Regions from separate parts of the Homo sapiens genome. Here region 2 is linked to region 1. A link means that fine-mapping ties the variant in region 1 to the expression of a gene that starts in the linked region. Tissue or cell type: tibial artery. Region 1 holds a variant in brackets; the other region holds the start of a gene. All regions are shown on one strand. Distances are from middle to middle.

Evidence for each region. PIP is the estimated chance that this variant, and not a neighbour inherited with it, causes the effect.
Region 2: APRT starts here. The variant in region 1 is fine-mapped to the expression of APRT in tibial artery (GTEx, PIP above 0.99). The same link has a PIP of 0.9 or more in gastroesophageal junction and whole blood.

The regions. Positions count from the first base shown.
Region 1 is chr16:88,766,022-88,774,021 of GRCh38, forward strand. The region is part of intron 1 of PIEZO1 (piezo type mechanosensitive ion channel component 1 (Er blood group)); the gene reads right to left. Among named protein-coding and RNA genes, the nearest start is that of PIEZO1, 15 kb to the right of the region's middle. RefSeq lists enhancers at 1,612-2,197, 2,198-2,781, 2,782-3,365, 3,950-4,533, 4,534-5,117. The variant A/C (reference allele first, on the strand shown) is at 3,727.
Region 2 is chr16:88,807,786-88,815,785 of GRCh38, forward strand. APRT (adenine phosphoribosyltransferase) reads right to left here and starts at 4,143. Exons shown (of 5, transcript NM_000485.3): 1 at 4,035-4,143; 2 at 3,765-3,871; 3 at 2,638-2,771; 4 at 2,285-2,363; 5 at 1,554-2,055. The coding sequence starts at 4,114. The coding sequence ends at 1,913. It overlaps CDT1 (chromatin licensing and DNA replication factor 1), which reads left to right. Exons shown (of 10, transcript NM_030928.4): 10 at 330-1,473. The coding sequence ends at 493. GALNS (galactosamine (N-acetyl)-6-sulfatase) reads right to left here. Exons shown (of 14, transcript NM_000512.5): 14 at 5,949-6,740. The coding sequence ends at 6,654. RefSeq lists enhancers at 2,477-3,012, 4,518-5,202, 5,203-5,886 and silencers at 3,896-4,295, 4,546-4,805.

The DNA.
Region 1 (8,000 bases):
AGACATCACATGCGAGTCAGCGCACGGCTGTGTTCTCAGTCGGCAGCGTGGGTGCCGTGGTCACGCCTGCGGGTGGGGTGTGAGGGTTGATTCATGTGTCAGCGCTGCTGGGCCACGCTGCCCAGTTTAGTCAAACGCCAATCGCAATTTGGTGTGCAGGTGTTTTTAAAATGAGATTGATTTAAATCAGCAGACGGCATGAGGGCCTCATCCAATCAGCTGAAGGCAGGGGAGTGTCGCCTAAGGGCCCGGAGGAGGAATTCCCAGGACCGCCACAGAGAAGCCCGGCCTGAGCGCACAGCCTGGACTCGAGACTGCAACAGCGGCTCTTGACAGCCAGCGCGCCCTGCGAACTTCAGACGTGACAGCCCCACAATCGCGTGCGTCAGCTCCTTAAAATAAATACCCATTTCACAGGTAGAGAGACATATCAATATATAACAAGCACCAGGCTGGTGTGGCCGAGGCCTGGGGACCCCGAGTTCCTGCCGCCTGTGTGGTCCCTCCCAGCACCTGGCAGGGCCCAAAGGGGAAGCTCAGGCACACACCCACCTACCTCCGGGGCCCTGGGCCCAGCTGACTGAGCTTGACAGCCAGCTCTGCTGCCACAGGGCTGGGGCGAGTGGGACGCCGGGGGCCCCCACACATACTCTGGAAATTCAACAAAGTCATGAAGCAACCAAGGGAAAAAAATCAACATTCTGGGCTCATAACCACTAGGTGGGCAGGGCACTGCCTGGCTCTTCCCCAGGATCACCAGCCCCAGAACGGGGACCCGGCCCCAGCTGCTCTCAGAGCCACAGGGACGATCACCTCAGGCCACGAGGGCCGGGGCCACCCCAGGTTGGAACCCTGGGCCCAAACTGGCTAGAGTGGGCCTCAGTTTCCCCTTTCCATGAAATCTCAGAGAACATTCACTTTCCTCTTCTCCACTTTCAAAAGTTTTTAAAATGCAGAGAAGCACAAAGTAACACCCAAGGTCCTCACAGTCAGCCTGTGAGTGCCGCGACTGCTCTGCCCGCACGAGCCTATTCTACCAAGCACAGCTTTCCCATCAGCTTCTCCGATCGATTGGCTTCCCTGATTGATTGATTAGCTTCTTCCCGGATTGAGCTGCAGTGCGCTCTTCACTCATCTCCCCATTCCTCCCCCTTCCCAGAAGGAAACGGTCTCATGAGTCTCGGGACATCCTTACGGGAAGGAGACATTTCTGAGTTCTGGAATTCCATCCAGGGCCATCTGCAAGGGCATCCCTGGCCTGTGGCTGTGCTGAGACCCCTGGGCCAGGTCCTGCCCATGAGGAAGGAGGTCAGGGGGCTGTGCTGGGAGAGCTTTAAGTCACAAAAACAGGCCCCCACAGCCCAGAGCCCCCCAGCCCTGATCCCCCAGAGACCAGAATGACTGAGGCAGGAAGGAAGGGGACCAGCCACAAGGTCGAAGCTTCAGTCAGCTTTGGAACTCCCCCACTGCAGGTGACTGGCTGGGGTGGAAGCCGCCAGCTTCCCTACAAACCCCTGCTCCTCTCCCATCTCTCTCAGGACCCCAAGAGCCACATACCATCATACACTTGGCCACTGAGCCAGAACCCACATTTGCAGGGGGAGCCCATGTCATCCTCAGCCACCTAGGAAGGCGGAGTCACTGCTGTCCCCTGGCTCAGAGGAACCAGGGTCCCCAAAGGTCACAGGGTGAGGCCACCCAGCCAGGGAGGGGCAGAGCCAAGCCAGAACATCTCCGCTGAGCCTTCTGCCTCAGGGTGACCCCACCCTGCCCTGCCCTACAGCCCCGAGTCAGGACTACAGCCTTGAGGGATCGAGGGGACTCAAGCCAGCTTCCACCACTGAAGGGCAAAACCCACACTCCCTGACACAACCCCCAAGCCCTCGCAGACTTCCCGGGCTCCCTGACAGCACGAGACTCACGCACATGCTTCTCCCGCTCCCTCCCCCGGGTCCAGACCCCAGGTCCCTGAGATTTCCCCCAGGCCCTCCAGAGGGGACCCCGTGGACCAGACCCCTTAAAGCAGAGGTCTGCAAAGTGGGACCCACGAGCCCCCAAAGCCATGTGCCACCACAGTCGTGTCCTGGGGAGGGGGGCCCAGGGCCCAGGGCCCAGCCAACCTCACGGGCCCAACCTCGGTCCAGGGCTGCCAGCTGGTGGGGCAAGAGCTGGGCTCCTCTTGTGCGGCCTGGCACACTGCCTGGGCCTCGCAGCCCCTCCCCCCACATCCCAGCTTAGCTGCTGGACCTTATGGCAGGGTGTCCCCATAGCTGTTCCCACCACGGCAGGCCGGCTCCAAGAAGCTCCCCGGGCCAGGAGGAGAAGCTGATTAAGTGGCCACTTAAGAGCAGAGAGTGGATTGTTCCCTGTGGGGGGTGGGGAGGGGACTGGACGGCCCTGGCTAAAACCTATGCGCGTGCTCAGTTCCTGGAAAAAGGGGAGTGAGAAAGACGGACACACTGCCCTCTCACCCACCACATCCTGTTTTTATGGAAAACTAATCCAATTCCTAACAGCAGAGCGAGCAGCCGAACTCCCGGGGGTCCCGGGTGGCCCTGACAAGCAGGTTGTGGGCGGGGGCTCCCTAGTCCGTGGGGCAGGAGCTCGTCCACAGGGCAAGAGCGCTTCCCTCTCAGCCGCTCCTCCCTTCTCCCTGGGGAGAGGCCAGGATGGATGCGCCCTTCCTGGCAGTGAGGGGCTGGCTGACCGTCCCCACCCCTGCAGCCTCAGCCAGGCCCTGCTCCCTTCTAGGCCTCGGCCAGTCTGGGGTGGGGGCGGTGCCCACAATGGGCAGGCCAGCGACACCGCGAGCTGCAGGGCCCAGTCCGGGGCACAGCAGTATTGTGGCTGCAGACCATGGGATCTGGAGCCAGAATAGCCATGGCCGGGGCCGGATGCACCTTGGCAAAGCAAGCTGGGCCTCAGTTTCCTCATCTGTACAGTGAGGACACCAGCCCTATTCACTGCAAAGGCCACACACTGAAGTACGCTAGGACACAGCAGCACCCGCGCCCACACTTGCTATGCAGAGTGGGGGCCCCTCATCCAAAGGGGCCAGAAGTATTTCCAGTTTAGGATTTTCTGGATTTTGGAATATTTGCACACGCATAATGAGGTATCTTGGGGATGGGACTCAACACAAAATTCTACTCACATTTCAATATATACCTCGTACACATACCCTAAAGGCAGTCACATAATTTTGTGTAAATAATGACGGGGGTCTCACTATGTTACCCAGGCTGCTCTCAAACTCCTGGCCTCAAGTGATCCTCCCACCATGGCCTCCCAAAGTGCTGGGATTACAGGTGTGAGGCCACCACGCCCAGAGCATACTTTCAATAATTCTGGCTTCTGACTGTGACCTGGCGTATGAAGTCAGGCCTGGAATTTTCCGCTTGGATTTAGATTTCGGACTTGGGGACTGGGATGCCCAGGCTACACCATCCTCGCATTTTCCTTACCAATATGAAGACAGACCTGCGGAACGCCTCGGCAGCAATGGAGCTGTGGGACCGGTCCCGCCTCCTCTCCTACCACTGCACATGACCGGAGCCCCCACCTCACATCGGCCGGCTCCATTCCTGAGGGTCAGGGCCAAGCCTGGGGACCTGCAGCCTCCAGTCAGCACGCAGGGAGCAGAGCAGGGAGAGGACCCCGGGCCTGGCTGTCACTGCTTCCTCCTGAGGACCTGAGCCAGGTCTGGGGCTGAGGCTCAAACACAAC[A/C]TGTAGCTCTGGTGGGCGGAGCGTGGTGGGAAACAGGGAGGGGCCAGGGTGGGCGGGGCCAGGACGAGCCTCATGTCACCTCTGCTAGCTCAGAGCTGGCCCTGCTCCTGCGCAGGTTAGAGGGAACAGAGAGGCCGGCATGGGGCGGAGTGTGGTTAACAGATCCCCTAGGGGGTCACACCCCTTCCAATGCCACATGGCGGGGCAGCAGGGGGCTCTGAGGCCCTCCTAACCTACTCCAACCTGGAGGCTCGGGACCCCCACGCCTCTGCCCCTGAGAGAGGAAGTGAGGGACTGTTGACGCATGGCCCGTCCCCAGGGAAGAGGACTGATGCCTCCCAGGGTGTTCTCCCTGCCCACACGCCCCAGCCCCTCCCCACCCTCTCTCCAGGCAGAGAGTGCACAATCCGGTCTTCCCAAGCCTCGGTCTGTCGGGACAGAACCTGCCAAAGCCAGAGGAGGCCTGCAGGCAGCCCCACAGGACGCCTGGCAGGCGGCTCCCAGGACGTATCCCCGAGACCTCTCAGCCTGATGCCTGTGCACAGCCCGCTCCCCCATGACCCGGTCACACCTGCCCCCCAGCCGGGCCCCGCCTGCATCACTTTCTGGCTATGGACTTGGGAGCTGGCTCGACCTTTAGGAGTCTGCAGTTCCTGTCTGTGGGGTGGGGGGACGGGAGCGGCTGCCTGGCCAGGCTGTAGCGAGGATGGCACGGTGAAGAGTCCAGAGTCTGCCAGGACACTGAGCAGGGCGTTCTCCTCAGGGGCGGCTCCAGAACTGCAGTCCATCGGGAGAGGTGGCCGTTAGTGCGGGGGCCCCGCCATGGGCGGTGCCTGCCTGGGCCGCTCCCTTCCCCCTCAGCCTGAACACGGTCCTGGGTGGGGGTACTCTCCCGCCAGCTGCCGAGCACGTCCACCACCTGGTGCCTTCACTGCCAGTGACTCAGCCAGGCCGGCTGGCAGCCCAGCCGCACCAAGTCACCCTGAGCACGCCCCACGGTTCCCACGGAGCAGTCAGGTCCGGGCCAGGCGTCCTCCACTGGGCCCCGCGCGGCCCTGCCATAGGTGACACCAGCCACCACCAGAGTCGCTGGGCCTCATGTCCTCACCTGGGAGGCCAGTGAGGTGCCCTGGGGGCTTGGGCGAGGAGCTCTAACTATAGGAATCCGGTGGGCGGCACTGGAGAGACTCCCTGCCGTCACATGCCCTGAGCGCAGGGGATTAAGAGGCTCTGGGCCCTCTCATCTGCAGGCGGGGCCTGGGCGGAGCAGCTCCACCCTATCACGTCTTGCTCTGTGTTGCAAGGTCCTTCCGCCCCTGTCACTTAGCAGGTGGTCTCAGTCCCGGAGAGCCAGAGCCGTGAGGCAGAGCAGGGCAGGCGCTAATCTCACAGGGAGATAAAAATCAACCGTGCGAAAGGCCCCACAGAGCGACCGCTACTGGCACCGGGCCCAGCCTTGCAGGAACTCTGCACCCAGTGACCCCCCCTTGGGAGGTCCAGACCAGTTCCACTCTTAAGGACGAAGTGCTGGAGGCTCAGAGAGGCTGAGAGATTCACCCAACCACCGGCCCAATGGTGCTCAGCAGCAGAGCCAGGACTGGGAGCCTCATCTGACTACATACAGCTAGGAGTGCGGCGACAACAAGAAACCAGGCCAGGCGGGGCTCCCATCCCACCGCCTCCCTTGCCCTGCAGGCCCCAAGCCCAGCAGGCAGGGTAAGGAGCACACAGCTTTCTTGACTGGGGGCTCGGCTCCCCACGGCTCACGCAGCTGCTGGGCTCAGGGGCCACACACGCCCAAGCCTGAACCTCAGCAGGGCCACTCGACAAGTGCCCTATGACAGTGTCCAGCGGAGGTCCCAAGCTAGCCATGGGGGTCCCCCTCAGCCCACAGTCAGAGCAGGGCCATAGGGAGGTGCTGGGTGGGACAAGGTTGCAGAGGTGACACTAGTGGAGCCGACGTCCAGATGCCCGTCCACCCGCGGCCCCAGGCCCTCCTGAGACTCTATGCCCGTCCACCCGCGGCCCCAGGCCCTCCTGAGACTCTATGCCCGTCCACCCGCGGCCCCAGGCCCTCCTGAGACTCTATGCCCGTCCACCCGCGGCCCCAGGCCCTCCTGAGACTCTATGCCCGTCCACCCGCGGCCCCAGGCCCTCCTGAGACTCTATGCCCGTCCACCCGCGGCCCCAGGCCCACCTGAGACTCTATGCCCGTCCACCCGCGGCCCCAGGCCCTCCTGAGACTCTATGCCCATCCACCCGCGGCCCCAGGCCCTCCTGAGACTCTATGCCCGTCCACCCGCGGCCCCAGGCCCACCTGAGACTCTATGCCTGTCCACCCGCGGCCCCAGGCCCTCCTGAGACTCTGGTCAGGATGCCTGTCCACCTGCGGCCCCAGGCCCTCCTGAGACTCTGGGCATGGCTGTCAGAATGACCATCCCTGGTGCCATTGAGACCCCAGATCCAGCACCTGTGTCCAGCGCTGAAGTCCCAAGTCTGTGTCCAAGCTCAGAAGGAGGGCCCAGAATCCCAGACGTATCATGGCAGCAAGTGAGCCGGGGGTTGGGACAGGTAAGCAGGCTCTTGTGGCTTAGCCACCAGCTCGGAATATACTTTCCATGTGGACATGAGGCCCAGGTGCCAATAACCAACAGCCACGCTGGAGCTGAGGGCCCTGGGAGCCTGCAGGCCCCAGCCCACAGGCAGGTGGCAGAGGGCACGGCTTCCTCCCTCATAAAAAGGCCCGTGCCTGGCAGGGCACAGTGGCTCACGCCTGTAATCCCAGCACTTTGGGAGGCCGAGGCAAGCAGATCACGAGGTCAACAGATCAAGACCATCCTGGACAACATGGTAAAACCCCGTCTCTACTAAAAATACAAAAATGAGCCGGGCGTGATGGTGGGTGCCTGTAATCTCAGCTACTGGGGAGGCTGAGGCAGGAGAATCGCTTGAACCTGGGAGGCGAAGGTGGCAGTGAGCTGAGATCGTGCCACTGCATTCCAGCCTGGCCAAAGAGTGAGACTCTGTCAAAAAAAAAAAAAAAAAGGCCTGTGCCCCCTCCTCCCTGTTCTCTGAGGGGGATGCCCGCCGCAGCCCTGGCTCAGTCTTCATGTCACCCCCTTGCAAATGTGCAAGCTCCTGAGGCCGCAGGCTGGGGTGGGCCATGGCAGGGCCAGCCTCCCCTCCAAACACCCACGGGACACGTGAGTGGAGGCACATGGCTTCCAGCTGGCCCCAGGGGTGCCTGGAAGACTGTGTCAGCCTCTGGAATGTGAGGCGGCCTGTCTGTCCACCCAGAAGCTTCTGGCACTCCAGGGAGCTCGAGCTCGCTGTGCTCTGGAAGCAGCAATTACTCCTCCATCTGTCACCAGCGGCTCCAGCCAGCCCTCAGGTCCACGTGCCTCCTTCCTCCTGGGTCTCATTGATTCAGGCTGAGCCTCCCCCTCTGGCCCCCCAGTAACTCCCGGCGTCACGCCCAGGCCCTCGCTCAGGGGATCTGAGTAGAGGGGAGGCCTGAGTCAGGACAGCCCTCCAAGAGTGGGCAGCCAACGAGGGACCCCCTGAATAAAAACCGCAGAGGAGGTCTGCCCACCTGGCGTGGGGGCCAGGGAGGAGGTGGGCAGGGGGAGGGGCCTTGCCCGAGACCAGAGGTGGCTGGGGGCCGAGGGTCGGCAGGAAGCCAGGCGACCGATGGGCGCAGCACAGACTGCCTCCACGTGGCCCTGCACAGCCTGGCCTCACTAGGGGAAGGGTGAAGACAGCAGCTGGCGCTTCCCCTCAAAAAAACCCTGGGGGCTCAAGGCCACCCCTGAGGTCTCCAGGCTCCTAGGAACAGGGCCTGACAGGGAAAAGGCTGACAGGCAGGTCGGGGGACTGGACAGCAGCTGCCTATTGGGTGACAGGCAGGTCGGGGGAGTGGACAGCAGCTGCCTACTGGGTGACAGGCAGGTCGGGGGAGTGGACAGCAGCTGCCTACTGGGTGACAGGCAGGTCGGCGGAGTGGACAGCAGCTGCCTACTGGGGGTGAGGGCTCCGGCCACCCTGCACCCAGTGTCCTCCTGGGTGGTCTTAGGAAGAGGGTCACTCGACCCCAGCCCTCCAGTGCAGGGCCCCACCGGAGCTTGCTCTGGGCACTTCTGGCCCTGCCAAAAGTCCCCTCAGGTGCCACCATCCCTGACCACCAACACCTCCCTGCAGGTCCCCCGAGTCCCTTCAGCACCGCAAGCCTCCTCCCCGCCACTGCTGACCTTCAGAGATTGGGGCCCCTCCAGGCC
Region 2 (8,000 bases), 42 kb after region 1:
CTCCCAGGCCTCTGGTGACCAGGCCCTGAGCACATAGGGGTCCTGACGCTACAGGGCACCTCCTGCCTCAGGGCTTTCATGGGCTGGCGGCCTCCATGCTCGGTGCCTCCTCACAGGGCCTCAACTGTAGGCCTGGCTCTCTCCGGTCACTGTTCACACCACCCAGACCTGGGCCTCTGATCAGAACCACCTCTGCCCTAAGTCCTGGTGATGGGGCCCTGAGGGCGACCAGGCAGGCACAGAGGTTGGGTGGTCAGGCTGGTTTCAAGTGCTGCCCGTGCAGGGCTGGGGCCCAGCACCAGCCTCAGTGTCCTCCTCTCCTCCCCCAGGGGAAATGGAGAAGCACCTGCTGCTCCTCTCCGAGCTGCTGCCGGACTGGCTCAGCCTCCACCGCATCCGCACCGACACCTACGTCAAGCTGGACAAGGCCGCGGACCTCGCCCACATCACTGCACGCCTGGCCCACCAGACACGTGCTGAGGAGGGGCTGTGAGCCTGGGGGCCACTGTGGACAGACGTGGGCTTCAGAAGCTCGCTGGCCTGGGCCCACCAGCATTTTCTTTTATGAACATGATACACTTTGGCCTTCCTTTCCCCAGCGCCCCTGAGGGCCAGAGGCAGATGTGGGCTGCAGGCTGCACAGCCCGAGGGTCTCTGGCTGCGGGCGGTGGGCCCCTTCATGGGGCTCACCTGGTGGATTCACATTAAACCGGTTTCTGTGGGCACCTCTGTCCTTGCTGCTGGTGGGGAAGGGAAGCCAGATCCAGCACCCCCTGGGGGGCCATCGGGAGTGTGGCTGGGGGTGAAGGGGGCTCTGTGGCAATATGGGGTTGGGTAGTGTGGGTGGCAGGCCATCCCCTCTAATCTTGGAACCTCTGAATATGGGACCTCCCACAGCAAAGGGTGACTTTTGTCATTAAGAAAGACTGGGGTGGGTGTGGTGGCTCACGCCTGTAACCCCAGCACTTTGGGAGGCCAAGGTGGGCAGATCACGAGGTCAAGAGATCGAGACCATCCTGGCGAACATGGTGAAACCCCATCTCTACTAAAAATACAAAAAATTAGCCGGGTGTGGTGGTGGGCACCTGTCGTCCCAGCTACTAGGGAGGCTGAGGCAGGAGAATGGTGTGAACCCAGGAGGCACAGCTTGCAGTGAGCGAAGATCGCACCACTGCACGCACTCCAGCCTGGGTGACAGAGCGAGACTCCGTCTCAAAAAAAAAAATTTCAAGACTGGAGAGGTGATCCTGAATTGTCCAGCTACGCCCCATGTCATCACAGGGCCTTCATGACAGGGCCAGAGCCAGCCAGCTTTGAAGACGCGGCCCTGCCCCGACACAGGCAGCCTGGAGAAGCTGGGCAGGACAAGTAGGACATCCCTGGAGCCTCCAGAAGGGACTGGCCTCTGCCCACACCTTGACTTCAGTATTTCTGACCTCCTAAACTCTAATAAAGTCATGCTTACAGCCACTAGATCTGCAGAAGAGCCCTCGCTTGCTCCCCTAGAAGATGGGCCCACATGGCCTCTTCCTGCAGTGCCTGGAGGGTTCTAGCTCCTGAGGTGAGAACCAGGACAGGTTCTGCTGGGCATCACGCCAAGCAGCACATGCCCACAGTACAGCTGAAGTCTGGTGTTGTCCTGGGGCTCCCTGCCCTGGGGAACAGGAGGACAGGAGACGGCTCTTGTGGGAAAGCTGTTTACTGCGTTCTCCCGCTGTGTGTAATTGGGTTCAGTGTGGCTGAAACACAGCTTTGCCCCAGGCTTTGGCACTTCCAGCCCCAGGAGAGGCGCTGAACCCCAGCAAAGGAATGTGTTCCCTGTGGGCAGCCGGTGCCCCTGGTCACTGCAGTTGCCCAAGGCTGATATTTCCCTGGGATCCAGCTGGAGATGTTGGGCTGGGAGGCCCTGTGGTCACTCATACTGCAGGAGAGAGAAGAAGGGTACAGGTGCCAGCTTCTCCCTGCCCTTAAGCGAGGTCAGCTCCACCAGGCTCACGCACTCCAGGACCTCAGCCTGCAGGCGGCCCAGCAGCTCACAGGCAGCGTTCATGGTTCCTGGGGATGGGAGGGTGAGGTCCCCAGTTGGCCTGGGCTGCAGAGAGCAGGTGCTCCAGGCCAGCCCCTGGGTTGGGGAGGGGAAGGCATGGGGAGAGGAAGGTGTCGGCCTGGCCACCAGGCACCCTCTGGACAACAGTAAGCTGCATCCCATGTCACACAGCGAGGTCCTGTCCCACTCCCACCAGGCCCTTGGAGCCACAGCAGTTGGCTGCGGGGAGACCCTTACCACCAGTGGCCAGCAGATCATCCACGACGACCACCCTCTGTCCTGGCTCCAGGGCGTCTTTCTGAATCTCCAGCTCAGCCTGGAGTGGGAAGTGGTGTGTGGTCCTCAGCCTCCCGCAGAAAACAGCTTTGTTGCACAGCTTGGCAGCTGCCACCCTAGACCCTGACTCCAACCCCACCTTGCTGTTACCTGGCTGTGTGAGCCCAGCCTATGTCTCAACCTCTCTGAGCTCCCAAGGCCACTGTAACCACAGCAGCTCCACTTGACACGCCTGGGAAGGCCTTTTAGAACTGGGGGAGAGTGGCCACGGTGGCCTGGCCCTGCCCTTCCTCTGGCCACCCCAGCCCTCTTACCTTCCCGTACTCCAGGGAATAGGAGGCCCACAGAGTGGGGCCTGGCAGCTTCCCCCGCTTTCGGATGAGCACGCAGCCCAGTCCAAGCTCCTGGGCCAGGGAGGGGCCAAAGAGGAAGCCTCGGGAGTCTAGGCCTGTCAGGGTAAGTGACAGGAGTGACTCGGCAGCATGGGAATCCCCAGGGGCCAGGGTTGGCCGGTGGCAAGGGGTACCTGGTTGGCTCCCAGCTGAAAGGCCAGTGACATGCACCATTTAAGGAATGTTACCCATCACCTACCCGGAGCTGCTTCCAGGTCAGAGTGCAGACCTGGGTCTGTCTTTTAAGGGACCACTTCTTAGCTGTGTGTTCCTAGGGGAGTCACCACCCCTCTCTCTGAGCTGAGCAGCCCATCTGTAACTGGGCTGGTAGAAACCTGACAGGCCTCAGCTTACTCTCAAAGGCAGCTCTGCACCAGGGCTTCTGTCTAAAAAGGGAGTCTCTCGAGGTGGCCTGAGCTGTGATGGTTGGGGGACGCTCAGGGAAACCCTGCCCCGGCCTGGCAGGAGGTCAGGGAGGGCTTCCTGCAGGAGGTGAGAAGGGAGCTCTGGCAGTGTTGTGGCTCCAGCAAGAGCTGGCGCTTTCCTCAGGGCAGTGTCCAGGGAGTGGGCTGTCACACCCTAGGAGAGGCAAGACGGCCAGGAACACTCTGTTCTCCCTGGGCCACCTCTTGGGCTCTCCCGGAGGCCTCCAGGCCTCCCTTCCCTGGGTGGGCATTCCGTGATCTTCACCAGGGAAGGCCTGGCTCGTGGCAGGCGCTCAATACCAGCTCGCAGAAGGAACAAGAAGCAAGGCAGCTGGGCCCTGTGGATTCAGCTTGGGCACTCCAGGGAGACCAACTGACCCGGCAACTCGGTCACGCCTGTCCTGGGCTGGGGACCCGGAACCTGCGGGAAGGACGCCTGCACAGCGCGGCGGCCTCGGGGGCTCAATCTCACAACCCTTCCCGGGCGACCCAAGCACGGCGCCCGTCCCGGCGCCCCCTGAAGCACCCCAAAGGCCCTCCCCCAAGCAGACGCGCAGAGCCCACGTGCTGCCCTCGGCGCGCGCAGAGGCGGAAGCGCCCTAGATGCGGCCACTGGGCACTCGCCTGCGATGTAGTCGATGCGGCCCCCGTGGGTCGCCTTCAGGTGTCGCGCCAGGAGGCCGATGGCGGCGCGGAAGGAGGCGGGGTCCTTCAGGACGGGCGAGATGTCCCTGGACCCAAGGACAGGCCTGGTGACGCCGGGGCCGAAGGAGGGCAGGGCCCCGGGGGCGAAAGACGAGGGTTCCCGCCCCGCCCGCCCGGAGGTCGCGGGCCACGCGCTCCCATCCGTAGGCCCGCAGGTCGGGGCGCCACGAGGGCGGCCTGTGCGTGCACCTGAATACCACGCCTGGGGTGGGGAAGTCGGGGAAGCTGCGGATCCGCTGCTCAACCAGCTGCAGCTCGGAGTCGGCCATGGCCGCGTGCGAAGAGCCAGCGGCAGCCCGAGCGCGCCTGCGCGGGGACGGGCGGGACCGCCACGAGGGGTGGGGCATCCCCGGAGGGCGGAGCGTGGGTGAGGGGCGGGGCATCCGTCGCCGGAAGCCTGTACCGTATTTCATGGACTCCTAGGCGCCATCGATTTTAAGACGCGCTCGCATTCCACGCACCACTGAGCAGAACGTTCGAACCGGACAAAAGTGCGAGTCAAGGCGCCCTTCCTTGTCTCGGGCTACGCTTCTGACTGCAGCCAGGCAGCTGTGGGCCGGGGCCTTGGCGGCTGGAGGAGGGGCGTGAGCTGGTCTCGCCCACGCACCTGGCGCGCGTACGGGCCGCGCCCTTTCTCCTTTATTGGCCGAGATCCCCACGCTGCGCGCGGGAGGCTGGCGCGCGGGGTGGAGAAGGGCGTGAGGAAGCGGTCCAAGTAGCAGGAGGGCGGTGCAGGGCCCGGAGGGAGCAGCCCAGGGCGGAGGCGGCGGGCCTGGGCTGGACCGGCCGGGGGCGCTGGCCTCTCGCGGATGGGCCCTGCCGTTGAGGCGGCTCTTCCCCGCCCGGACCCGGGGGAGGGAGGCCGGAAGGTGTGGCCAGGCCAGGGCGCGCATCCGCGAGGGCAGAAGCCCTTCTGTCCGCCTGCAGAGGCCAGGTGACCCCTTAGCCTTGGGGTGGGGAGCTGTGAACCCCCTGGCCGCCCGAGGACTGGTACCCAGGGGGTTGTGTGAGGCATAACTCCCCCCAAACACAATTTCCTTTCAAGAAAATCCCCAGAGCTAAAATGCCTTGTGCTCTATTCCAAGACTTTTCTTCATTTCGCAACTTTTTTTTGAGAAGGACTCTCGCTCTGTCGCCCAGGATGGAGCACAGTGGCGCCATCTGGGCTCACTGCAAGCTCCACCTCCTGGGTTCCGGCCATTCTCCCGCCTCAGCCTCCCGAGTAGCTGGGACTACAGGAGCCCGCCACCACGCCCTGCTAATTTTTTGTATTTTTAGTAGAGACGCAGTTTCACTGTGTTAGCCAGGATGGTCTCGATCTCCTGACCCCGTGATCTGCCCGCTTCGGCCTCCCAAAGTGCCGGGATTACAGGCGTGAGCCACCGCGCCCGGCCCATCATTTCGCAACTTTTACAATTCAGCTTTGGCCTGGCAGTTACTGCAGAAGGGAAAACCCACTCAGTGGAAGGCAGCCCCCAGGAGCCTTCGGAGGGGGAGGCCGGAGGCTGCATGCGGCTGCTGGGGCCCCGGTTCCAGGGCGGGTGGGGGACCCATCGTCTGATGCCAAGGGGCGTGGTAGGGGCGGCTGCCTCGCAGTGTGCGGTGGTCAGGGCTGGCAAGGCCTGGGGCCTGGGCTCCAGACCCCTAGGGAAGGTGGAAATGGAGGACCCTGACATCCTCACGTCCCCGGGGAAGCTGCCACATGAGCCGGCCCCACCGGTCCAAGTGTGTGAGCTACACTTCAGCCGTCCACGTCCAGCCCAGGAGGCCTCCGCCTTCCCCTTCCTTGTTCCTGATTCTGTCTCCCAGATGGCCCGAGGGGGGCCTGGGAAGGCGTGGGGTGGGGGGGTACTGGAGGAGGGGCCTGGGGAGGGTTCAACACAGAATTGGCCCTGTGGCTTCCTTCAACCCGGGCTGTTGGGCTGGCGTGGGAACAGCAAGGAGCCCCGAGTCCTGCCCTTCAACAACCAATGTGGCGCTGGCCTCTGGAGGAGGCCGGCCGGGAGGCAGCGGGAGCTGGGCACCTGATTCTTGGCAGCTGCTGAGAAGGTGTGAAAGGAAAATAAATCTCCGGACCCCAAAATCACTCAGCCAAGAGAAAAATCAAGCTGGGAATTAGGCAAACCTGCCTCCCGTTTTATTTCTAAATAACATAGTTACAATGATAAGAAGCTACACGCCTCCCTCATAATTAGCGTCCAGGGAAATTCCTTGTGGACAAAGGACAGACGGAACTGGAAGTCATCCCTCTGGGGCTCCCCTGAGACAAACGCTTATATGATTGCCCCGTTCCCTTACTGTTTACATAAAAATGCGGATTCACTGGGCCAGACTCAATCGTGTATTCAGTGGAAGGCTGACTGAACCAATGTACGCCATACACATACTGATCTTGTGTCTCCCTAAGATGTATAAAGGCAAACTGTATCCCCAGCCACCTCAGGCACCTGTTGTCAGGACCTCCTGAGGCTGTCACAGGTGCATCCTTAACCTTGGCAAAATAAACTGAGACTGGTCTCAGATATTTGGGGTTCACAAAGGCGTGAGACGGCAGGGTCCTGAGGTCTGAGGCGCCGTGGGCGAGGAGGAGGGTCCTGAAATCTGAGGCGCCGTGGGCGAGGAGGAGGGCCAAGCACACGCCAGGGTCAGGTCCTGGGCAGGTGGAATTGTGCAGTCCCCCTGCGTCTGCAGGTGCTGTCTGTCTGGCTTGGGCAGGGTTGGGGGAGGACCGAGGCCAGAGCCATCCTTCCTCCAGGCACTTGCAGGGCCAACCGGAGATTCTAGGCCTGGCCTGAGTCTGCGCAGGTGCTAGTGGGACCAGAGGCACTTCTTGGGAATGGATTCTGGAGGTGTCAGACACTTCCCTAACTTTTCACAGCCCGGAGGTGCCCAGTTCTGGGAAATGAAAATTGAGAAAAAGAACATGCAGTTATTCAAGCTCTTCTGGACCCAGCAGCAGCGGGCATTTTGTTGTTGCTGTTCTGAGACAGTCTCACTCTGTCACCCAGGCTGGAGTTCAGTGGCGCGATCTTGGCTCACTGCAACCTCTGCCTTCCGGGTTCAAGAGATTCTCCTGCCTCAGCCTCCTGAGTGAGTAGCTGCTGGGATTACAGGCACGCGCCACCACGCCTGGCTAATTTTTGTATTTTTAGTAGAGACGGAGTTTCACCATCTTGACCAGGCTGGTCTTGAACTCCTGACCTCGTGATCCACCTGCCTTGGCCTCCCAAGGTGCTGGGATTACAGGTGTGAGCCACCACGCCCAACCATTTTTGTATTTTTGGTAGAGACAAGGGTTCCCCAAGTTGGCCAGGCTGGTCTCAAACTTCTGACCTCAGGTGATCCACCTGCCTTGGCCTCCCAAAGTGCTGGGATTATAGGCGTGAGCCACCGCGCTTGGCCTCGAGCAGTTTTGATGTGTCCCCTGCCCAGGTCAACCCCGGACCCCAACCAATTGGCCTCAGTGTGGGGACCACCTCGGTCCAGGTGGGCAGCTACACAGACGCTCCCCAGGAATCATGGGAACTTGGGAGATGGCACCCTCTTGACTCGGCCTCTCAGCTCTGAAGGCTGCCATTGGAGAAATGAGAACTTGGTGGGGAGGTCCCGGGTATGGGGGATGCAGCTGCCAAGTGGCTGAGGGCCTCCGAGGGCCAGCAGTGTTAGAAAGGGCAGGCGGTCCTCCCAGGAGGGCCCACCCTGAGCTTCTCAACTCATCACCCTCTCCTGCAGCTTCAGCCTCTCAAGAAGCCTTTCCCAGGGAGAAGCCAGTCCCTACTGCGCTGCTGGGCTCAGTTCAGTGCGGTGCTGAGCGGAGCCCGCACCCCTCCATCGCCTGGGTGTGTGTGGACCTCACAGTGCAGCCTTGCTTAGCGGAAGCCTTGCTTGATGGGAGGGCACTTTTCCTGGCAACAGAAAGGGAGACTTATGCCGCTAAGAGGAGCCTTCTTGGCTGAAATGAGTGCAGTTTGGTTCTGTGTCCCCATCCAGGCCACTTCTGTGCCACGTCAGACGCCGCATGGCCCTGAGGGCACTTTCCGGGGACAGACTTTGGATTCTGGGTGCTGCTCAGGGTACTAAGGACAGTCTCCAGCCCTAGGCGGCAGCAGGGATGCCGCATGAGTGTCCCTGCCCCCTTGGCCACCAGAGCAGGAG